Linked DNA regions of Homo sapiens. The protein of the gene in region 2 interacts with the protein of the main gene of each other region in a biochemical or structural test. Each region holds a gene or a part of one and is shown on either strand. Other genes may lie near its edges. The genes, in order: S100A11, ANXA1 and UBE3A.

Evidence for each region.
Region 1: the proteins of ANXA1 (region 2) and S100A11 form a complex in vitro, tested with the Homo sapiens proteins (2 studies listed by BioGRID).
Region 3: the proteins of ANXA1 (region 2) and UBE3A form a complex in vitro, tested with the Homo sapiens proteins (one study listed by BioGRID).

The regions. Positions count from the first base shown.
Region 1 is NC_000001.11:152,033,515-152,041,229, reverse strand, and holds the start of S100A11 (protein S100-A11), read left to right. Parts: upstream 1-4,225; 5' UTR 4,226-4,314; coding exon 4,315-4,317; intron 4,318-7,429; coding exon 7,430-7,582; intron 7,583-7,715. UniProt on the Homo sapiens protein: Facilitates the differentiation and the cornification of keratinocytes.
Region 2 is NC_000009.12:73,147,305-73,155,174, reverse strand, and holds the start of ANXA1 (annexin A1), read right to left. Parts: upstream 3,311-7,870; 5' UTR 3,251-3,310; exon of another isoform or gene 852-3,250; coding exon of another isoform or gene 833-851; intron 1-832. UniProt on the Homo sapiens protein: Plays important roles in the innate immune response as effector of glucocorticoid-mediated responses and regulator of the inflammatory process. Has anti-inflammatory activity.
Region 3 is NC_000015.10:25,365,597-25,373,284, forward strand, and holds part of UBE3A (ubiquitin-protein ligase E3A), read right to left. Parts: intron 6,217-7,688; coding exon 4,970-6,216; intron 1-4,969. UniProt on the Homo sapiens protein: E3 ubiquitin-protein ligase which accepts ubiquitin from an E2 ubiquitin-conjugating enzyme in the form of a thioester and transfers it to its substrates.

The DNA.
Region 1 (7,715 bases), on a different chromosome or scaffold from region 2:
TGCCTCCTTCCTCTAATGCTCCACAGCTGAACAGTGGTGAAGTTAGGTTGGTTTTGCCTTCTCAGTATTTGGTAATTCCCTCTCCCCATCTCCATGGCCATCTCACCCTGGTTATTGCAACAATATTCTAATATTCTTTGCCTCTAGTCTTTCTTCTTTCTAGAACATGTTTTCTACAGTTCCAAAAGTGAAGGGGATCACGTCACTGTCCTGCTTAAAAATCTTCAATGTTCCTTGATACATAACCCTAAGGTTACAATCCAAACTTCCAAGTATATCTCCTAATGAGCTGACCCTTGTCTCTCCCATCTCACATCCCACAGCTTCTGCCTCACATTTACCATCACCCCATACCCTAAGTCTGGTTCTACTGAACCACCTGCAAGTACTGAGAACACGAACAATGTTTCATCCCGAACCTTAATTCTGCACAAGCCACTATGTAAAACTTCCTCTGAAGACACTGCTGTAAGTCCTAAGCATTAAACATGAATTAACTCTTAATCCTCACAACAACTACTATTCTCTCCACTTTACAGATGAGGAAACTGAGACACAGAGCCAACAAATAACTTGCTAGATTTCATATAGCTAATACGTTGTGACACTGGGATTTGAACCCCAGTCTTGTGGCAGAGCCTGTGGCTGTAAATACTGTGCTATCTTGCCTGAGTTCACCTTTTTTCACTACCATGTTCATCCACCTGGTGAATTCTTATTTATATTTCAATACCCACCTCAAGCAGCACTTTTCCAGGATACTTTCCCTCCTCTCCCAGAGTTAACCTCTCATTTCTTTCCTGGCATTTGTCATTGTGTCTTGGTCACACCCCTGTTATTGCATTTGTCACTGTACTGTGTCCATTTCAGAATCAACCCAATGCTACACAGAGATCAGACTGCACATAAGAATTACCTTGAGCCATGGAAGTTCCTACATTTATTTCCTGATAAGCCCTTTTACCCATCTGTATATTATTTTTGTCTCTTGCTGTCAGTTTACCAGCTCTCACTCATCCTCAGCTCCTTGCTGGCTCCAGCCCTTCAGTTTGATTCATTGTTTGCCTGCTTTGACAAATCTACCTTGCCTGCTACCTTTCCTGAACTCTCCCTCCTTTGACTGATAACCTAGAAATGAACCCCTTTCAGCGTGACCCTGGGGAGCAGCTGTCAAGCAGGCAGCCCTAACTGGGTGGGGCTGATCCCCCAACCTGGCTCTGAACAAGTCATACTTATTTGGTTTAGCTTTTTCCTTTGGTTTCATTCAAGCTACTTCATGGGGCTGAAGAGTTATTGAAAGAATAAATGTCATAGAGAAAGTAAGAAAAACTAACAACTAGGTTTAGGAAGAACAAAAACGCTAATGAAGTCAGACTGCAGGCTCTTCACTCCCAGTGGTTCACCATTTTCACAATTCAGCGAACACCCAAGTAGCCTTTTCTTTAATTTACAGTTAGCAATTGGCTTACATTCCCCTCTGTCTATTTCTTCCAAATTTCATAGCTTCCACTTACTCATGATGTCTTCTCCATAAGTTTTATTTGCCATGACTTCATGGTTCTGTCTATGCAAATGTTCAGCTTCAGCTCTTCTAAATGCCTAATTTTCTATGTGCTTCTAATTTCAGTTTCCCAAAAACAAGAAGCTTTTTGGCCCTAGTTCATCTTTCCATGTTATGTCATGAAACATCCACTACCAGCCATCCTATAGATTGGCAGTGCTGGTGTCCAGACTAACTTCAACCCAGTCCACTCTAACAGGGTCACAGTGTGTCAAATCATGCAAAACTTGGCCACCTGGGCTGCCCCTTGAGCACAGGTTCTAAGTGAGGCATTTTCTCTTAAAAAGAACTATAGTGGCCGGGCGCAGTGGCTCTCACCTGTAATCCCAGCACTTTGGGAGGCTGAGGAGGGCAGATCACGAGGTCAGGAGTTCCAGACCAGCATAACCAACATGGTGAAACCCCGTCTCTACTAAAAATACACAAAAAATTAGCAGGGTGTGGTGGCGCACACCTGTAATTCCAGCTACTCAGGAGGCTGAGGCAGGAGAATCGCTTTAACCCGGGAGGCGGAGGTTGCAGTGAGCTGAGATCACCCCGTTGCACTCCAGCCGCCTAGGCAACAAGAGTGAAACAACGTCTCAAAAAAGAAAAAAAAGAAAAGAACTGTGGTGTGTAAGGCCTCATGATTGAGTTATGGAGTAATTTAGACAAATGATTCCTTAATATGTTGGGATCATAAATTTTTCTGAGAATCAGATGAAAGATGTGGACTCTTCGCCAGAAAAATTTCTCTTATGCAAAAAATTTACATGTAACTTTAAGGTATTAAGGAACCCCAGCAGCCGTTCATGTAACACCCCCCACCACCAAAGGTTTGAAGTCTATTACCTGGCACTTGATAAGAACTGTGAGTCAAAAAGGCATTTAGACTCAGTGGCTCCAATGCTTTCAAGCAGGGAAAATGGTAGAGTGATAGTACCCTTAGCAGAGAAGACAGAAACAGGTTTGGGGAAAACTAGTTATTCCTGAATTATTGAGTCTGAAGTGCAGGTGGGACTCTCAAGTGGATTCATAAACAAGTAACTGAAAATGTGGGTCTGGAGTAGCTGAGAACTGAGATGGAGATTTGTCTCACGTGCTCAGGGCACCTGTGAGAGCAGGTGCAGGGAAGCAGTTCACACAATGCCTATAGCCCATTATCTTTCATTTGCGTCTACTCTGCAGTTTTTGGAGACCTTTCTAAGCCCTCACTTTACTTGACAGTCCTAACAATCTTATGAAACAGGAAAGGCCTATCTCAAGACCTATTACAAATAAGGAAGTGGAAGCTCAAAGGAGTGACAAGTCTGGTCAAAAGTATTGCAATGAAGTAACAGACACAAGACTGGAACCCAAGTCTTCTGATTCTTAATACAACTCCTAATTTCATTGCAAACTGCACACAGATAAATGCCTTACTAGCACGGATCAATTTTTAAGTGCAGTAGTTTGGTTTTCGGATTTTGTCTTTGTGGCTGTCCTCAGTTTACAGAAAAGTTTGAGAGAGAGGGGTGGCAATTGTCCCTTGACAATAATCCCCAGTAATCCCGTGGCAATTGATTTGGCAATACTCACCACTGTTTACTGTTAAATATCTTCCCTGTGGAGCAATAGAGAGCCCCAACTCCTAGGAACTTGTCTACAATTCTGACCCGCACTCTGTCCTAACTAACACTCTTGGTTTTGTTTTTTGTTTGTTTGTTTTTGAGATGGAGTCTTGCTCTGTCGCCCAGGCTAGAGTGCAGTGGCGCGATCTCGGCTCACTGCAAGCTCTGCCTCCGGGGTTCACGCCATTCTCCTGCCTCAGCCTCCCGAGTAGCTGGAACTACAGGCGCCCGCCACCACGTCCGGCTAATTTTTTGTATTTTTAGTAGAGACGGGGTTTTGCCGCGTTAGCCAGGATGGTCCCGATCTCCTGACCTCGTGATCCACCCGCCTCGGCCTCCCAAAGTGCTGGGATTACAGGAGTGAGCCGCTGCGCCCGGCCTGTTTTTGTTTGTTTTTTGAGACATTGTTCCGCTCTTGTTGCCCAGGCGGCTGGAGTGCAACGGCGCGATCTCAGCTCGCTGCAAACTCCACCTCCCGGGTTCAATCGATATTTCTGCCTCAGCCTCCCAAGTAGTTGGTATTACAGGCGTGTGCCACCACGCCAGGCTAATTTTGTATTTTTAGTAGAGACAGGGGTTTCACCATGTTAGTCAGGCTGATCTCAAACTCCTGACCTCATGTGATCTACCCGCCTCGGCCTCCCAAAGTGCTGGGATTACAGGCCTGAGCCACCGCGCCCGGCCCACTGCTGTTTCCAAAAGAGACCTTTTTTGCCTATCTAACCTAAATGCCCAGAATGAGCTCATACATGGGAAAGACCCACGGACATGGACAGACTTCCCGAAGACTACTGTGCAAAACTTATAATTCTAAAAAGTCAAAAATCTTCAGGAATCACAGGACGGGGTGGAGGGGGCCGGGGGGAAAGAGGAGGGAAAAGAGGGAAAGGAGGGAGAGTGAGACTGCTTAAATCGCTGGAGAGGACGGTGGGTTTATTTGAGTCTTAAAGCTCAGTTCTGTGGTTAGCGCCGGCCGCGGTCCCAGGCCCAGCCCGGGAGGCGGGGAGGGGCGGGGCAGGCGCGGAAGCTGTCTGAGTAAGGCTTGGGCAAGGCTGGGCCGGGAAGGGCGTGGGTTGAGGAGAGGCTCCAGACCCGCACGCCGCGCGCACAGAGCTCTCAGCGCCGCTCCCAGCCACAGCCTCCCGCGCCTCGCTCAGCTCCAACATGGTAAGCCTCACTTTTCTTCTTCTTCTTCTTACATGAAAAGAAAAAGAAAAGAAAAAAAACCCACATACTTCCCAGCAGACTTTATCTTTGACTTATGTGTGGACGTGGCAGGAAACAGCAGGAAAAATCAGCCTCGTGGGAGGGAACTGGGGAAGAAGGGATGGAAGGATGAAGCCCTAAAATCATCCTTGGGGTGGCCGCCTAGGGTAGCAGCGGAGGTTCTTTAGCCTTCCCAGTCACGACAAGGCCCAGGGCTGGGGAAGAGGAAGTGCTGGCCGCTCACCGCGCGGGGGGGGGACCCGTCGTGGGTCACTGCCTCCAGCCCCTCGCCCGCGGTCTCCCGGGAGCCCAGAGACGCCTAGGAGCAAGTTTAAGGCAGGGGGCTGGAAAGCTGCGAGGGGTCACTAGTTATTTCTGTACACCAGAAAAGGGACATTTTAGAACTTGGTCGTCTAGCCCCAGGGAAAATCAAAGTTTCAGTAAGCACCCGGCAGACGGCCAAGACCCAACGGGACTGAAACTTTAGCCCGTCGCCGCCCGCAGCGCCGCGGCCAAGAATGTGGGAGGAACCCGGTCCCAGCTGAGCCCTCTCCTCCTTCCTCTTCCTTTTACCCCACCATCTATTTAGGCACTCACTCCGTAACTTATTTTTCTCTTCTTATCTCCTTTCATCTCCCAGTTGAACTCATATTTTCCATAATTCCACCTCCAAAATCTCTTTCTTTACCTCTCCTTAGTGGAGAGTCAGCAAACTGGCCCGCGGGCCAAGTCGGGTTTTCTGTTCTGCCCACAAGCTAAGAATAAAGTTTACATTTGTAAATGATTGAAAGAAATCAAAAGAAGAAAAATACTTTCTGACATGTGAAAATTATGTGGAAATCAAACTTCAGCGTCCATAAATGAAGTATTGGAACAGAGCCACGCCCATTCCCTTCCATACTGTCTGGGGTTGCAGTCCTGCTACAGCAGGGACAGAAAGCTCCGGAGGGTGTTGGTTAAGAATGAGAAGACAATAGTTGAGGTTTTTAAAATTGCTACGTCTTTTTCATCGTATTTTTTTCTTTCCTCAAATGTTGAGCGCTTAGCATGCATTTTTAAAAATTATTTCACAGTATCCGTTTATCATAATGTTTGCTCCTTGCTATCGCCATCCCCACCAAGTAAGACTCCAAGAGTGCCATGAGGTGTGGAGAGCGCCGGTTCTCCTCTCCTTCAGCCACTGCGCCACCCTGGGCAGAGCTTTCCGGTTTCTGGGCGTCCTCAGGACCCATCTCCAAAGTGCCCTGGAGCTCTACAAATTATGCCGTTCCATTTTAGTAATTTGATAATTGTGTCTCTTTCTTTCACTTTGGAGAATTACCTCTGGGAGGAAATGCAAAGAGGTTTTAATTTTCTCCTTGTGGCTGATAGCAACAGCAACAGTTTTCAAAAGAAAATAATCTCTAAATTACACCAAGACTGATGTTAAGGAGAGAAAAATGTGAAGCAGAAAGGCACTGTGAAACTGGAAAAGCAAAACTGTCTGCATTCTGGAAGGAAAAGGGGCAGGGGGAGAATCTGTAGTTCCAGAGAAAGGTGACAAAGCCCATGCTCCTCAGCCTGGTGTGGCCTCCCAGCCAGTCTCCTTCCTGTCATCTGATACCTTAGTAAGACAGGGAGATTTTAGGCCTGATATGAAGGGCATGTTGTAACAGAACAAACACATCTGTTTCTAGGCTGTGGTATTTTGTTTCTCCCCTAAAGGCCCCTGAACCTACCAACACTTTTCTTAATGAAAAGTTCAATTTAGAGCAAAACAAAAACAATCATCCTCCAACAATGTGATTCTTGGGAAAAAGTCCACCTCTCTTAGGGTTCAGGGGTTCTAACGCTGTAAGATGCAATGGGAGGCAAGACTCAGCTAGGATCTCTGCAGCATAAAGGCTGTACAGGAAGGAGGAATCAATCTGCAGCTGTGTAGCTAAGGGCTCAGATCAGTTCTTAGCACGTGTTAATTACGGAGTGAGAAAGCCTCTAGCTCTGGCCTCCAGGAAGTCCATCCTAAGAACAAACGAAAGGCTAAATGCTAAGTTGCAAATGTCACCATCCAAACATAAATCATTGTTAACGCTAGTAGGTAAAGTCTCAGAGGAAGGGTGTGGCCAGGCCGGTTTCCCAGAAAGTCTGTAATTGCGGCTTCTACCCACCAGAGGGAGGCCAACAGCTCCTCACTTTTGGGACCCTAAGTCCCCTTGGGGAACCGGATGACTGGGCCCTATAGAATTTCCTTGAAAAATTCTGCTGTGAGGAAAGAGCCCAGTACAGGATTTAAATCTCTTACATTGTAGATGCTGTGTAAGCAGCAACCTGAGAGCTTCCTGGTTTGGAGTGACCTCCAGAGAAGCTCCACCTTCTCTGTCACTATTTCCCACCAGGAAGTGGAAGCCTGCAAGGCTAAGGACTGCAGAAAGGGACTGGGAGGCCCAGATTCCAGGGCTGGCTCTGCCATATCCATTCCCTTCTCCTGTCCGTTTCCTCACATCTAAGATTAATGGTTCCTAACTCTTAAATATGAAAGCCATTTTCAAACATCTAAAAAGTTCTATCTCCCACTGCATACACAATGATAGCTATGCTTTTAGTTTTCTCTAAGGAAATGTGTGAGTCCCAGGAATTCGGTATTGCTTTAAAAAGAACTGACATTTCATTAATCACAAAAGCCTCCATACACTCTTGGAAAATAAGAAATTATTAACCTATAGACAATGTTTGGTGTGCATATGGATTTGTGGATATAGAGTTACACATGTATTTATCCACACATTTTAAAAATATGAGTAAACCTTGTCACCGTCACTCTCATCTAGGCAGTCTACTGCTTTTAAACGTGCCAGCAATGCTCCACATTTACCTTCCATATATTTCACCTGGAATAAACATGTGGCGAGGGGTAGGACGGAAGGTCACAGAGTGTGACTTTTTGTGGTTGTCTTGAACCCCTCAGCCCCTTGAAAAAATGACTCAGTCTTTTAGGAAACTGCTTTGACCTGAAATAAGAGTCCCTGGAGTTTTCTCCAGTATCCAGCCTTGACATCTTCCCTTGTCTGAGCCCTGCAATTTTTTTTCTCCAAAGGCAAAAATCTCCAGCCCTACAGAGACTGAGCGGTGCATCGAGTCCCTGATTGCTGTCTTCCAGAAGTATGCTGGAAAGGATGGTTATAACTACACTCTCTCCAAGACAGAGTTCCTAAGCTTCATGAATACAGAACTAGCTGCCTTCACAAAGGTACTGGTCCCTGTCTCCCCCACTTCCCCAAACTACCCACAACATGAAACAAGACCCTGGCAGAATGGCCAGGAATGAAGGAGCAGCAACTGACACCCCACACTCTTGCTTCATTTTAACTCACTCTAAGCCA
Region 2 (7,870 bases):
ATTTCACATTTCTTCTAATTAATGGTCTTTTTGTGAACATGCACTGCCTACTAATGTCAGCTTATCTATGATTTGAATGTATAGCTTTCTAAAGCGTAGCAATTTTTTTGCATATTTATGTGTCCTAAGAGAGTCCCCCCGCTTCATTTTTCCATCTCTCAGCCTCATGAAAGGCTACCTCTATCTAGAATTTGTGACAGAGGAAGCTGAGTTTTGTGGTTGATTGTATCTTCCTGGTTACAATCTAGAACTATCAGAGTTTTGCAATGATAGTAACAGCAATGACTAACCCTTGCTTGGAATAATAGCCTTTAATCATTATCCTCAGTTTCTATCTGGGAAAACTGAGTGCTATTTTCAAGCAGTCTTCCTGCTAGTAGTGGCAAGAATGGAGACATAAATCCATCCCTTTTGATTCCAAAGTGTTATATATTTTGGCTGTGCATGGTGGCTCACACCTGCAATCCCAGCAATTTAGGAGGCCAAGGTGGGCAGATTACTTGAGGCCAGGAGTTCAAGACCAGCCTGGCCAGCATGGCGAAACCCCGTCTCTACCAAAAGTACAAAAATCAGCCAGGCATGGTGGTGTGCACCTGTAGTCCCATCTACTCAGAAGGCTGAGGCAGGAGAATCACTTGAACCCAGGAAGAGGCGGAGGCTGCAGTGAGCCGAGATTGTACCACTACACTCCATCCTGGGCGACATAACAAGACTCTGTCGGGAAGAAAGAAAGAAAAAGAAAAGAAAAGAAAAAAGAAAAGAAAGAGAAGGGAGGGAGGGAATTAGTGACCAAAAAGAAAATGACATGATCAGTGTTCTTTTAATCACTCACACCTGAGAATCAAATTCATTAACAGTCAACTTGCGCAGACCGTAGCAGGTTTCACCCCAGCCTTAGGGAGTTTATTTTTAAATGCACGGCCTTGTGCATAGTTTTTCCTCGAATATGTATTTCACAAGTCCTTCCCACACCTTCCCTGGTGAGAGAAAGCAATTAAGACTACACAATGGCATGACTTACAGAAAGCAATTTATGAAAGGTAGCCTCACTAATGTTTTGCTTCCAGGCTTTTCGATAGGGTGTTCTTCTTGCCTGGAATGCTTGTTCCTCCTCCACATTCACTTCCCTTTGCCTAACTAATTGCTACTTCTAAGTGACTCATCAGCATTGATCTCATCACGTTCTTCAGAAACCCTTCATTAGTTCCTCAGCACTGGATTCGGTGACCTTCCATGCTCTCCCAAAGCATCCTGACTTCACCCCTACACCAGCCCCACCTTTCTGTATTATCACTTTCCATTGGCTTGTTTATATTCCCCAGGAGCAGGCCATGAGGCCCGTGCTAACATACAAATAATAATATTCATTATGTATGTACTTCCAATCCCTAGCAAAATGCCTGGAATTTAGGATGTTAATAAGTATTATTGAATGAATATCATGTATCATTGCTAATATTTTAAAAAACATATCTACACTAATTTAATGAACATTTTCTACCCACAACTATAGGATATAAAATACAAATTGAAGTATACTGGTTCTTGATTATCTGGCGATCTGACCTCAAGAAAAACATTTAGCTTCTCCAGAGGGTCTTCGTTTATAAAATAAGAATGTTGAAGTAATTATCATCTAAGATCCATTTACAGCTCTGAAGTGCCAATCTTAAATATTACTTCAAGTAGATGAAGATGAAGAAAATTAGCATAATGAAGGAAGGCATTATATAAATTGGATTGTTCTGAGCTTCCTGATGAAATTCTGTCCAATTTTAAAGGAAAAGGAAATAGTTGACTTCAAAAAACTGTTTATAGTTTATCATTGAAAAATAATAGGTCTGCTGGTTTACCTCTGATTTGAAATGTCGTAAATTAATAGGTCTAGAGAGAGCTAACGTCATATTCAGAAATCAACCTTTGCAGACCTTCTGGTTGAAAAAGTATTTAATAAGCATGAAACTCTGGCTGGTTCCTTAATAATATTATTATTAACTATTTTGTCAACATCTGTTAAATGTTGGCTATGTGCTGGATGTGGTTGAGCCTGGAGCTAGGGTGTTACTGTCACTTTTGGGGAAGAGGCCATTTCAGAATTATGAAACCAACATTTTACCACATTTGAGTCATTTGCAATGTGCATTCTCTTACAGCTACCAAAATACTCCTGTGGAAAGAGGGCAACATTGCTTTCTCAAAGTTTTTACAATCTTTTAGATATAACCAAGGCAAGAAAAATTCCATCCTTGTTAATTAGCTAGCAGTGAACATAAGAAATCAGAACATTTAATAAATATTTAAAATGAACGAACAGAAAAATTCTTGAAGGAACATGTTTAAGAAAAAAATAGCCAGATACATGATTTGTAATCTCACTTTTACAAATATATCCAACACTAGTAAATACTCTTCTTTAGTTTTGCTTTGTGCTTTTCTAAGGAGTTTTATGGCCATTAGCTCATGCAACAATCAAGTGGAATAGCTGTTGGAGGGCCTCACTGACATTCCCCTAGGATAATGTATCTGACACTACCCAGAAAGTATTTCCCTTCTTTTTAGGTTTTCCAGCCAGCACTTGAAAAGACTGTATATGACACAGAGCCTACAAGAAAAGGAATGTGGCCACACCCTCTTTAAATGAAAAAAGTAATAAGCGGACCTTCTTATTTTAAATAGCATAAGCAAATATAACATATATTTTTAAATGTTTATTACAAAGAGCATGATTAGCACTTTGAGGTCTGAATCTATCTTGTTTTCCTTACAAAAGAAGAAAATAAATTATGAAAGTCCTACTATTTTGAAACAGTTCCCTGCAGCCCACTCCTATCACTTTTGTTCTTGCCCCCAAAAAGCAGCCCCCATCACGATTTCTCTGTAAAACACACAGCTCTTGGGAAGAAATATTTCAAGGGGAAGGAAAGGAAAAACACATTCTTTTAAGGCTACCAGAGGGAAAGCACATTCTTCCCTTCTTTCTCATGGTAACTTACCAAGAGTACAATGAGCCAGTATTAAGCAAACTTATCTTATTTTTACTTGTATTTGTTAACTAAGTAGAACAAAAATATTGTAATTTGTGATTCCTAAAATATAAATATCCAATGTAATTCTACAGAAAGATTTATGAATGACTTATCATGTTAAATGCAACTAACCATAAATCCTGTAGAAGCAGTAACATTTAACATAGTGATGAGAAAAGTTTTCAAAACAACCAAAACTAACTAAAAGGAAAACCAAGACTTACCTTTATCTCTACCTTCTTGCAAAGAACTAAAGAGAAATTCTTCTCTGAAGATTTCACACTGGCAGTGGAGACTTGGGCTTCTGATTTTATAGGATTTTAAAGGAAGCCACACCTAGCAACCAGAAGTTAGTAATTGGCTGCCTTCTGTTTGAAGTACATGGCTCAGCTATGTCCAAAAACAAAGTGAAACAAGTCTTGCAAAACTACTCACTAAACCAATTCAACTGGCATTACAAAGGAAAAGAAATGGAAGGGCTGATTTTTCCTCCCTCTTTATTTTGCACTTTTATTTCCAGATGGGATATTTATTTTGCACTTTTATTTTCAGAGTATACATCTGCCCCAATCCTAATACCAGTGATTGGCACACTTTTGTAGTTAAATAGGTTGTAGACTAAAAAGTATGTTACCTTCAAAACTAAACAAACCAACAAACAAAATATTACATTTGAATTCCACCTCCATCACTTATTATTCTGTGACTTTAGGGACATACTTAATTTTTCTGAACCTGTTTTTACTTTTGTTTTGTTGTCTTTTTCCCCCGCTTTTTGTGGAGAATGGGGTCTCGTTATATTGCCCAGGCAGGTCTCAAACTCCTGGGCTCAGGCTATCCTCCTGCCTCTGTCTCCCTAAGAGTTGGAATCACAGGCGTGAGCCACCATGCCTAGCTGTTTTTACTTTTGTATATAGGAGCATTATCTAAGTTGTCTACCCACTAGAATTCTTGTGACAATGGAGAAATAACATATATTTGTAAATTTTAACATTACACAGTGCCGAATAATTTTCTATTTATATTTTTCTTGCCTTAAAAAATAAACGACTTTTGTTCCTAGATATAGCTTGTTGTTATAAATAAGAAATATAGAAGTAATAAAGTTCCAGATTGGCTCAAAATTTTGAACAAAGGTAATGCCAAAAATTTGATCATTATGACATTCAATAAAAGCATTGACATCAGAAGGCCTATCTACATTAATTCTTTTAAATAGAGTCAGTTACATAGAACTATATATATAAACTGTAATATAGATCAGTTATATATACATTTTGATACACATCTTTGACATTGTAGACTAGTTGAACACCAAAACAAGGAACTAGACCTATAAAATGAAAGGATTAATGGAGCAGCAACTATTACAGAACACATTCCATAAGAAATTTCCCACCCAATGGAGGAAAATTGGTTCTGGTAACTTCCATAGTGGTTCATTTTCATTCTTCTTTAAACCCTACAAAGTATTATATGATGTTTCCATTAAAGTGCACAGGTGTAAAATCTCACAGCATTATGGCTCAATTTATGCTGCATTTAGTGGTTTGTTCTTTTTCCTCTTTTCCTCATAGATATTTCACATAAAAAACATGAAGTTTAGGAAGTTAATGAAAATACTTTCTAAAGATTGGCAGTATTTTATAATACATTCTAAGTGCTCGATGCCAATATCAATGAAGTCAACATATCCTGAAGTAGGATGATCATCTAATCTAAATATTTAAGAAAATGTCAATATATGTTTTTACTATCATATGTGTAAGTTGAAAATTAATTAGTTACCTGCTAACAAGTTAAGTTAATTGATATTATTGCAAATTGATCTTGACAGATGTAGACTAACTTTCTAATACCATATTTATGTCATCAGGTGAGAAGGAATAAGATGATTATACAAAATCTGGTTTTCTTTTTTTCTTTAATTTGCGTTTGTATTCCTAACTCTGGTAATGGAACTATTGGAACATTCCTGCACAGTGATGCTCTTGTGAAATGAAGAAAAAATTCCACTTACTTTTTATAAAATATAACAACCTAGAAAACATGTATAGTCTCATTTTGCTTTGTTGCTGCTATTACCAGTGCCATAAACTGAATGGAATTATTTTATATGTTTGGATTTGTAATACATAGGCAAACCTAAAATAGCAACAATAAATATGATAATTGTAGCAGAATTAAGAAAAAAAAAGTGAAAAGAATGTTTTTCCAAAATTAACTTCCAGCTGTAACACTAAAGGCAAGTGAAACTCCCAAACATAACACAAAAAGAAAGCCACTAATCATGTAGGTATATTGCTGTGAATAATCTGTCAGAATCTTTTTCTCCGCATAATAATAATGTCGAGTAGATTTATGGAAATAAAAGAACAAGTAAAATATGTTATCATTAACAGTGAGGGGATAATCATGGGTTAAATGCTTTCTGTGGGTGAAATGCCACATACTCCAGAGAAATGACTCACCACTCTTGCTGTTTCTAGAAGATGATGATTCATCGGCTCCACTTACTTTACAAACAGAGAAAATAAAGAAAGAGAAGGAAAGAAAAAAGACAGTTAAAATCAATCTCTATATGTTACGTTTTTCACAGCATGTTTATTTTCACTCATTTGGTTTAGAATCTGATAGTGAAGAGGAAACAAAACAAAACAAGGAGAGGAAATATGGAGTCTCTCACATACATCTCATTGTGCATAAGACTCTTGCAAAATATCTGATCTTAGTAAGCTGTCCCCTCATCCTTTACATTTAACTCTATCTAAGCATTACTTGTTATATGGAAGAAAGAGTATATTCTGAATGATCAAGAACAGCATTTCACAGATATTCCAAAATCTCCCCACAGCTTCCTCATACCCCCTATCCACAGCCAACAAAAATCATTATTTTAGTGTGTGTTTCTCATGTGTCCCCAGGTCAAAGCATTTTGAGGGCTAACATTCTAAATGTTTTCCCTTTGCCTCTAAACATGGCAAATAATTATCACACACACACTGAGTTATTGAGATTATTATTATTATTATTCCTCAGTTATTCACATGAATTAAAGACAGAATTTTTTTTCAAATTTTACTCTTTCAGGTTAATGAAGTAGTCATGTGGGTAGCTAGAGCCAAAGGGAGGTACCTTTGTTGGACTTCACTTAGGGAAAAAGATCTTACCTCCCTGCCTCTCTATATTTCCTTTTGTGGGTGGAAAATCTTAGAGAAGATAAAAACTCAAATTTGGTGGTGGCTTAGTATCTATTACTGTGTGACTTAGGAAAAGTCAGCGAATGACTTGGTGATTCAACTAGTATACTTCCAACATCAGGATCATGCTAGGATTAGTAATTTTGTATTGCACAAGTTATTTTGTTTAATCCCTGAGTATAGTATCCATATCCCTCTCTATATTATTCGAAAGTAAGAGAATAAGACCTTGTCACATTCGCTATAATAACAAATTTTACTTCAATAATTTTCAAGAAGTTTTGCAGAAGGAAAATGAAGATATGTGTTAAGGTCAAAAGGTCAAACTCTGCTTTCTAGGTTCCAGCTGTTTTAAAATAGTCTGGCAGTTTCTTACAAAGATAAACAGAGTCTTACAATGCAATCCAGCAATTGTGCTCCTAGATATTTACCCAAATGAGTTAGGAAACATGTTTACACAAAAACCTGCACATGTATGCTTATAGCAGTTTATTCATAATTACCAGAAATTGGAAGCAGCTGAGATATTTTTCAAGAGGTAAGTGAATACATGGACTATAGTACGTTTATGTAATGGACTATTACTCAATGATAAAAAGAAATGCTTTTAAACCAGGAAAAGAAATGAAGGAATCATAAATGAGTATCGCTAAGTAAAGGAAGACAGTATGAAAAGGCTATGTCTGTTTCATTCCAATGAGATGCATTCTGGAGAAGGCAAACTATAGAGAAAGTAAAAAGATCAATGGTTGCCAGGAGTTGGTGGCAGGGAGGAGTAATAAATAAGAGACTTTTAGGGAAGTGGGCTGGGCATGGTGGCTCACACCTGTAATCCCAGCACTTTGGGAGGCCGAGGCGGCGGATCATCAGGTCAGGAGTTCAAGACCAGCCTGACCAACATGATGAAACCCCATCTACTAAAATACAAAAAAAAATTAGCTGGGCGTGGTGGTGCACGCCTGTGGTCCCAGCTACTCAGAAGGCTGAGGCAGGAGAATCACTTGAACCTGGGAAGCAGAGGTTAAAGTGAGCCAAGATTGCCCCATTGTATTCCAGCCTAGGCAACAGAGCGAGACTATGTCTCAAAAAAAAAAAAAAAAAAAAGAGATTTTTAGGGAAGTGAAACTATTCTGTATGATACTGTAATGGTGTATGCATACATTATGGATTTGGCAAAACACATAGAAATGTATAACATGAAGAGTAGGCCCTAATGTAAACTATGGCAATTAGCTAATAATAATGTATCAATATTGGTTCACCAATATAACAAATGGACCACATCAATCCAAAATATTAGTAACAGGGGAAACTAAGAGCAGCGGGAAATTGAGTATATGAGAATTCTCTGTACTTTCTGCTCAATTTTTCTGTAAACCTAAAATTTCTCTAAAAACTAGAGTCTATTATGAAAAAAAGGAACTTCATTTGATTATATACTTTCTAAGATATACCAGGACCATATAATTTCTAATATAATAATTCAAAAATTCTTATGTAATCAGAACACAAAAAATACAGCAAGTCTTCACATAATCATTGCCAACTCCATGGATTTATGACACGAACCAAAGATTAATATCCTTAAATTTAATAATGACTTTTTTTCAATTTCTATTTTAACTCAATAGGTTTAAAAAGTGA
Region 3 (7,688 bases), on a different chromosome or scaffold from region 2:
AATTAGCTGGGCATGGTGGCAGGCGCCTGTAGTCCCAGCTACTCGGGAGGCTGAGGCAGGAGAATGGCATGAACCTGGGAGGCGGGGCTTGCAGTGAGCCAAGATTGCGCCACTGCACTCCAGCCTGGGTGACAGAGCAAGACTCCGTCTAAAAAAAAAAAAAAAAAAAGAGGAAAAAGAAAGAAAGGCTAGCTTCAACTACTTCAGTCAACTTGAGGCTTAAACTATTGCTTGAGATTTCCAGATTATCCAAATTAATTTTTTCATGTTCACGATAAACACATGAAGAAAAGTCTGTTATATCTCAAATGTAGTTTAAATGTTTGGGTAACACCAAATCACATAATCACGTTCGTCCATGAGACCTGGAATCCTGACTTCTATTTCCAATTCTGCCATTAATTTATGTAGGCTGGAATCTCTTTTAGATTTCATTTTCCTCACATGTAATACTAAGTTTGATGTTTCATTGTCTTAAATTATTATATAATGCTGAGGATCTATGTATATATAGGCTTCATTCTCTCATTCAGTTTCTGAGAAATTACTTTGAGGGCATAAACCAAGCATATTTCTTGGTTTCATTTTTGATTTCAATTAGAATAAATCACAAGAAAGAACAATGGAAATTACATGTTAACCACAATATAGTGTATGTGTAAGACAAAATTAAACATACCTAGTGCAGCACAGAATAATCTCATTTTTAAAGCTCTGTGAGTCAATGAATAAATAAAAGAATTACGTTCATGTTTCACTAGTAAGAGTGTTCACCAATGCTGGAAGCTGGGAGCTGAAAATGCTGGAAGCTGGGTTAGACTAGGCTATTAGAAACCAGATAAAAAGGGCCAGTGACTTTTAGAGGGGATTTTGCAGAACCTCCTGGTAGTGGGGCTTTTTATCTGTGCCAATCACCTTTATCTGTGCTAATTCCTATTTTTGAACTTCCCTATTCAATTCCACATCTCAGCCATTCCTTTTGGTTTTTAGATATTTATGTGAAATGCTAGAACTCCCTGACTAATTGGAACCAAGTTTCACATCATCATCATCCTCTATTCCAAGCTTGCTGTCCCCATGATCCTCTTAAAAATCTGAGTTTCCAAAACACATAAACATACTTGTATATCAAAATGGCCTTTCTCTTTCTCTCTATATATGCACACATACACACATAAACACACATGCACACACACCCCCACCTGAGCTGAACCAAAGGCCATCTTCCCAAATATTGGAGTCTGGCTTTATCAAAATATTTGTGGAGTATTACCAGAAGTTCAGATTCATAGGCTCTACAATACAGCTTCTAATCTAAACCTCTAGAGGTTAGGGCCCTGGATTTTATTTATTTATTTATTTATTTTTTTTAAACAATTTTCCCATTCAGATGTGAAGGCAGTTTGAGGGACCTCATGATGGCAATACTATATTCTTCCATAAACTTATAACCTCTATCTTCTCCTTTAAGAAGTAATTTAAAAAATCTTAATACATACTATCATTGGAAGTGCTTCATCTAAGAAAAATGAGAAATTATCTACTTGTAAAAGAACACACAAATGGGTATATTTACATATTTGTAAATATGTAAATATTTACATATTTGTAAATATGTAAATATTTACATATTTGTAAATATGTAAATATTTGCATATTTGTAAATATGTAAATATTTACATATTTAAATTAAATTAATTTACATATTAAATTAAATTACATATTTATATTAAAAATGTAAATTTGTAAATATGGTTTTACATATTTGTAAAAACCTCATCACATTAGGAATGTCATTCAAATGAAAGGTGAAGTCTAAGCTCATGTTTATCACTGTACTGTTTTCTAAGGAACAATAACGAAAAAATACTGAAAATAAGTCCTAGGGGAACTATGGCAGTAAGTTAAACGGGTAGGGTGGGGGTGTTCTTAAGCAGTTCTAAGGTATTTGTGAAGAGACAACTTATATTCTATTGATTCTAAAATTCACTTTTTTCACATTATCTCTGAAATCAGATTACACCATACAAATGATAGCATCTTACAATGAATTGCTGGTATTTTTCTGTCTTAGCAGTAATAAAATGATAGTGTTTCCTACAATCAGAGATTAGTGAAAATACTATCAACATGAATTCTTCTCTTGTCATCAAAGACAATTTCTCTAAAAACCTCAGGAAAAAAGCTGCTAGTCTGGTTTGAATTTCACAATATATAAAAGCAATGAATATATTTTTCTTTTTTAAAAAAATCCACAATTATTAATTCAAGTTACCACTCCTCAACAGAAAACATACAAGAGTCTCATATATGAAGTCACTATTTTCTGGGCTTGATTTCTAAACTAAGGAGTGGATAACTCTAAGGTTTCTTTTAGCTCTTAAAGCCTAGGATCCCATAATTTTATTTATCAATATTAAGCTTACCACAAAGTTTCTCATTTCTTCTTTTCCACCCAACCCTGCTATACAATTCCAAAATTAGCAAGTCATAAAAAAGTGGCCACTAGTTTGTTCACTGTGATATATAAGAATGAGGCTTAAAAAGCAGAGATCCTTGGGAAATAAGATCTTGAAAAATTCATCACTTTTGAGCTTTCATATGAGAGAATAATCTTAAACCACTTTCTATTATAGAACTTCTACTATGTGTTACTAAAATATGTGGCTTTATCATAATCATCACCTGCTGTGAATACTTACTTCAAAAAATTACACAGGTTATCAATTTTACTTATAAGACCTATTTCGATGCTGGTTTTTCTAGTCTTTTCACATTCTGTTATTTTTTTAAAAAAAAGAAAAGGAAGAAAAAGCAAGGGAGAAAGAAAGTTAAGAGTAAAATCTGCTTAGTGTGAGCATTCAGAGCCCCTAAGGAAGCTTCTCTGTAAGCATCATCTCTTTCTATTTTCACAGTTTATTAAACTGCCTAACACACATGATTTCTGAAGTGAACTGCTTTTGTGGGCTGGCAATATTCAAGTACATATACTATCTAGTGAATCCTGATTTATGATAGGCCACACTATATTATCTAATTTTGATATAATTAAGCAGAACTTGCTAAAAACAAGTTACCATAATTAAAGAGCTCACAGTTAATTTTACACTAACACCTAAGGCTTTAAAAGCAGTTGTTTCCTTAAAATTCTAGAATAGAATTTAAAATATAGAATAAAGTATATACCAAGTACTTAAACTTTTGTTTTTAGTCTTGCTTTACTAGAGAAAAAAATGGGGGACTGAGGAAAATAAGACTGAGTAGACTTCTGAGCGAAAGACAGATAAGGAAGGTAGACAATTTTTTGAACCCTGGAATGATTCTTACAGTGTAATTTCATTGCCTTTTAAAGGCTAGACATAGCTTTTGATGAAGACAGCTGAAGGGATCTCACCTCAAGAAGCCAAACATAAAGTATGTAGCTTTGGCATTTGCAGTTCTGCTCCAACAATGGATAGTCATAGACAGACCTCAACATACCTTTCATAAAACATCACTCACATTCTTATAAAATACCCTATCATTCTGCTAAACTATGTAAAGTAAGGTGCTGGCTGCCTTATGATCAGTCATTAAGTGTATTAATTATTCATGTGTCTCAAAACTATGTAAGTGAAATAAAAAGGGTACCAGAAAGCAAGCAATAATAATGACTTCAGGCAGTTAAAGCCCCCTTTTGTCTCTGCTAGAAAACCACCTGAGTTGCTTAAATAATGCAGAATCTTTCTCCAACACTATAAACATATCTGACATTAAAAAAAAAAAACAAACCAGTAACAAAAAAAAAAAAAACACACAAAATCTCTGCAATTTTTAATTTCTGAGATGTCAAATAACTTTTTCCACCGGGCTACAGCTTTATGAATTCTCGAATTTAGACAATTCTAAAACTAAAATTTAGACATTCTAAAACTAAAATACATTTTAAAGTAAAAATCACATTTCCTAGTTGTCTGTGTCAGACAACTTTACTAGTATACTATAGTATTATTAACTACCTTAATTTTTGTTGACATTAAATTTTACTTGAAGATGATAAAAAAGTAGCAGCAATGACAGGGATAGCTAATACTAGAAATACAATAAAGCTCTGCGATAATGCACCTGAGACAAATGTAAATTTTGGTGAAATGTGACTGACGACTGCTTTCTGTCTTCTGGCCACTCTTATATTCTTAAACAGATACACTAAAATTATCTTGTGGAGGAAAGAAAAGGAACAAATGGCAACCCCATCTGGAAAACCAGGAAGTTAGGATGAGTACCTGAGTTTCCAGTATTTCCCTGCTCAATCTCCCTGGACTTGATGTTACAGGCACCACTAATCCCCAGATTTTTGGAATAGCTGCTGTTTTCCAGAAGTTCCAAGACCCAGAGTTGTCTCTATGAATTTTTAAGTGGGAAGAAACTACCACAGCCAGGCAGTGCCGTCCACACAGGGATATTCTAAGTGGCCCAGCAGGACTCAACTCTTACTGGCAACAGGCACTGATCTGCCATGGTCACTTCATCAAGTCCACAATAATGCAACTCTGAATTTTACACGATGGAATTTTTTGGACACTACCTATAATTTTATGGTATGGTTTTACTGTACCATTACTCCCAGTTCAAGACTGCACATCCACACTTATTATTGGGTATCTCCACATTTCTCTTGTTCTGGTCTTTGTCCAACACTCTATTCTCTTCTGAATGAAAGAAACTTTGGATTTAGTTTTCAAGATTTAGAAAACCCATTCTTTTTCAAAGATAGCATGACCATTATATAATACAACCGATACTTTGTAGAACACATCTATAAACTTGCACAGGAACAACAAAAGTATAATACTTATATAAGATCAGAAATGTCCATGTGTTCCTATGCTATATGGTATCATTTTTTTCAGTCACTTTTAAAATGAATTCACTGAACTGTATCATGATATCCCCATTATTAGGTTTTTAATCTAGCAGCCCAACTTACCCGGACAAGTGCATCATCTATGATATGGTCACGTCTAACTTTGAGTCTCAAATATGGATTCAACTGCTGTCCTTGAACTAAGCTGTAGAGAACAGTGATTCTTCGTTCACTGTACATGCGAATTCTATTGTCATAATATAATCCCAAATTCTTTGTGACAGCATTCAATATAAAGGGACATGTCATAAAAGAGAATTTGTTCTCTGTTTCTACTTTGAAAAAAGTATAATCTTTATCCATTTCTAGAACCTCATTCAGTGGTTCATTAATAAACTCTTCAAAAGGGATAAGTGGTTTTCGACAATCCAGGGTTTTAACACCAAGTTCAGTTTCCAGGGGGTCCACTCGAGGACCTTTCTTGTTTCTTCTTTCTTCTCCCAAAAGTTCCTGAAGTGTCAGCTCGCTGGACTCAGGGATGGGCTCTTCATCATCTTCTTCATTGTGATTTGTGTCCACTTCCCCTCCCACTACATTTGCATAGTAAACCATTTTCAAGCACTTCGAAGCAGCAACAATGGCATCATCATCATTCACTAGATTTCGACTGTTAAATTCATTGCTTATGACTTTATAAGTAATAAGTTGCTGAAATGTCTCCATCATTCTCCGAATCTGGTCTGCATTGTATTTAGACCACAGTCTGATCAGTTTTCCTTGGGCTGCAAGGGGTAGCTTGCTCATCGCTTTGCAAAATAATGGCAAAGCCATTTCCAGATATTCAGGACTGTGGAGATTTCTATTCTCCATTACGATAATGAACAAATTCAGATAATTAGGATCTCGAGAGTATACATTGTGATACGTCAAGTCACATTCCACGTTAGGTGACAAATATACAAGTGCATTGAGAAAGGCAGTTTCAATTTTTTCATTAGAGAGCAATCTGGTGTAGACCCTTCTAATGGCATCAATATCCACAGACACATCATCAGGGCCTAATTTTTGCAAATTGTTGTCTCCCTGTGAGCTATCACCTATCCTTGAGGAAGATGCTTCTGAGTCTTCTTCCATAGCAGCAGCAGAACATGCAGCTTTTTCCTTTTCATCTTCATCTTTGTCTTCATCTTTTGCTTGAAGAGATTTCAGTTCTTCCTTGGTGTGTTGTTTAACTTTCCGGAAGCTCTGTACCAATGCCTCAGCACTAGAAAAAACTCTTCCAATAACACGGATTAAAGGGGAATAATCCTCTCTTTCTCTACATAATTCAAGAATTTCATATACCTTCTCTTCTGTTAAGTAAGTCACATCTAGAAAATCAGAGGAAAAAAGAGAACATTTATTTTCATAATATGTATGTTTACTCTGTTGCAAAAAGTTCTAAAAGTAAAACAGCCAAACATTCTAGGCTCAATATCATTTATGATATACAACTCTTAAAGTATCTAATACTTAGATTCAGCAAACAAAATTTAATGCTTACCTATTTTTTTCAATGAACTACCTACCTATACCAATGACCTCACCCATGCTTTTACATTCTTTCAACAATGTATAACTCTTAATAAGATCATGAGTTTAAACTTTCTTTATAATCAAGATATCTATTAATGTATAGCTTTAATTATAAATATGAACCAATATGTCATGTACTGATTAATCATAATACAGCTCTTAAAACCTCACTGTAGAACACACAGAAATACTACTAATCTGTGAGTTTTCTTGTTTCAGTACTCTGTTCTCCAAAGACTAAGAAGGCAAGGTCTTAAAAAAAGGCTCCTTCAGCATCTATGTATGTATTAAAATCAAACTGGTTCATTTTGGGTCTTCCTAGTTTGTTCCAGGGTAGTCATTCTGTGAGTGATTGAGAAGAATATACCATTTCTCATCGGCTCTTAAGTAGAAACTGCTTTCCACAGCCAGGAATCAGGTTAGACTAAATCTCATAGAGTGACAGAAAATAGTTTTTGAGCAATGAAAACAAACAGTGCAAAGAAGTAAACTTATGAGCTGGCAAGCAGTGCAGAGACTATGTAGTCATCAAAATCTATTTCCTCTTTTCCTGGGCACAGAGTTGGACCACATTTCCCAACTTTTTGAGATAAGTGTTATTTTCAGGCCAAGGCTTTCTCCCTTCTGGCTAATAGGATGAAAGATATTTCATTTCACAGGTAAAAACAAATGATATATTTTGTGTACTGACCAACATAATACTGAGAATAGTCTTAATTCTCCCTTTTATCAATAAAGTGACATACTTGTCATCATCAGATTAACTACTTGAGAGGTTAATTTTAGAGGCACACAGACAATCCTACCTCCATTGCGCCAAATATACCCTTATACATGTAGTGTACAACATGTAGAATTTTTAATGACTCCCACCTCTGCTATAATATATGTTTCACAATGAAAGACAATATAAAATGTAAGTGATCATTGAATGGTCTCCAAAAATTGAAGCACAAAAATACCAAATTTTATCATACTAAGGATCTGATCTGTGGCCCAGCTACAAGAGTACCAACACTTACAGTTTCTTTTATGGGCCTTAACTCTTTAAGAACTAATTCTCAGGTTTGTTCTATTAAGAATATATAAGCATCTTTTGCTAAACATCAGTAACCTCTTCCCCAAAAGCATAAAACCACTGGAAACCTATTTCTCATTATTTTCATTGAAAATTTTTAAAATACCTTCTTACAAGACAATGCAAAACTCCTAATTTCCTAAAATGTAACATAACAGAAAATACTACTATCCTATTAGGACATGAAAC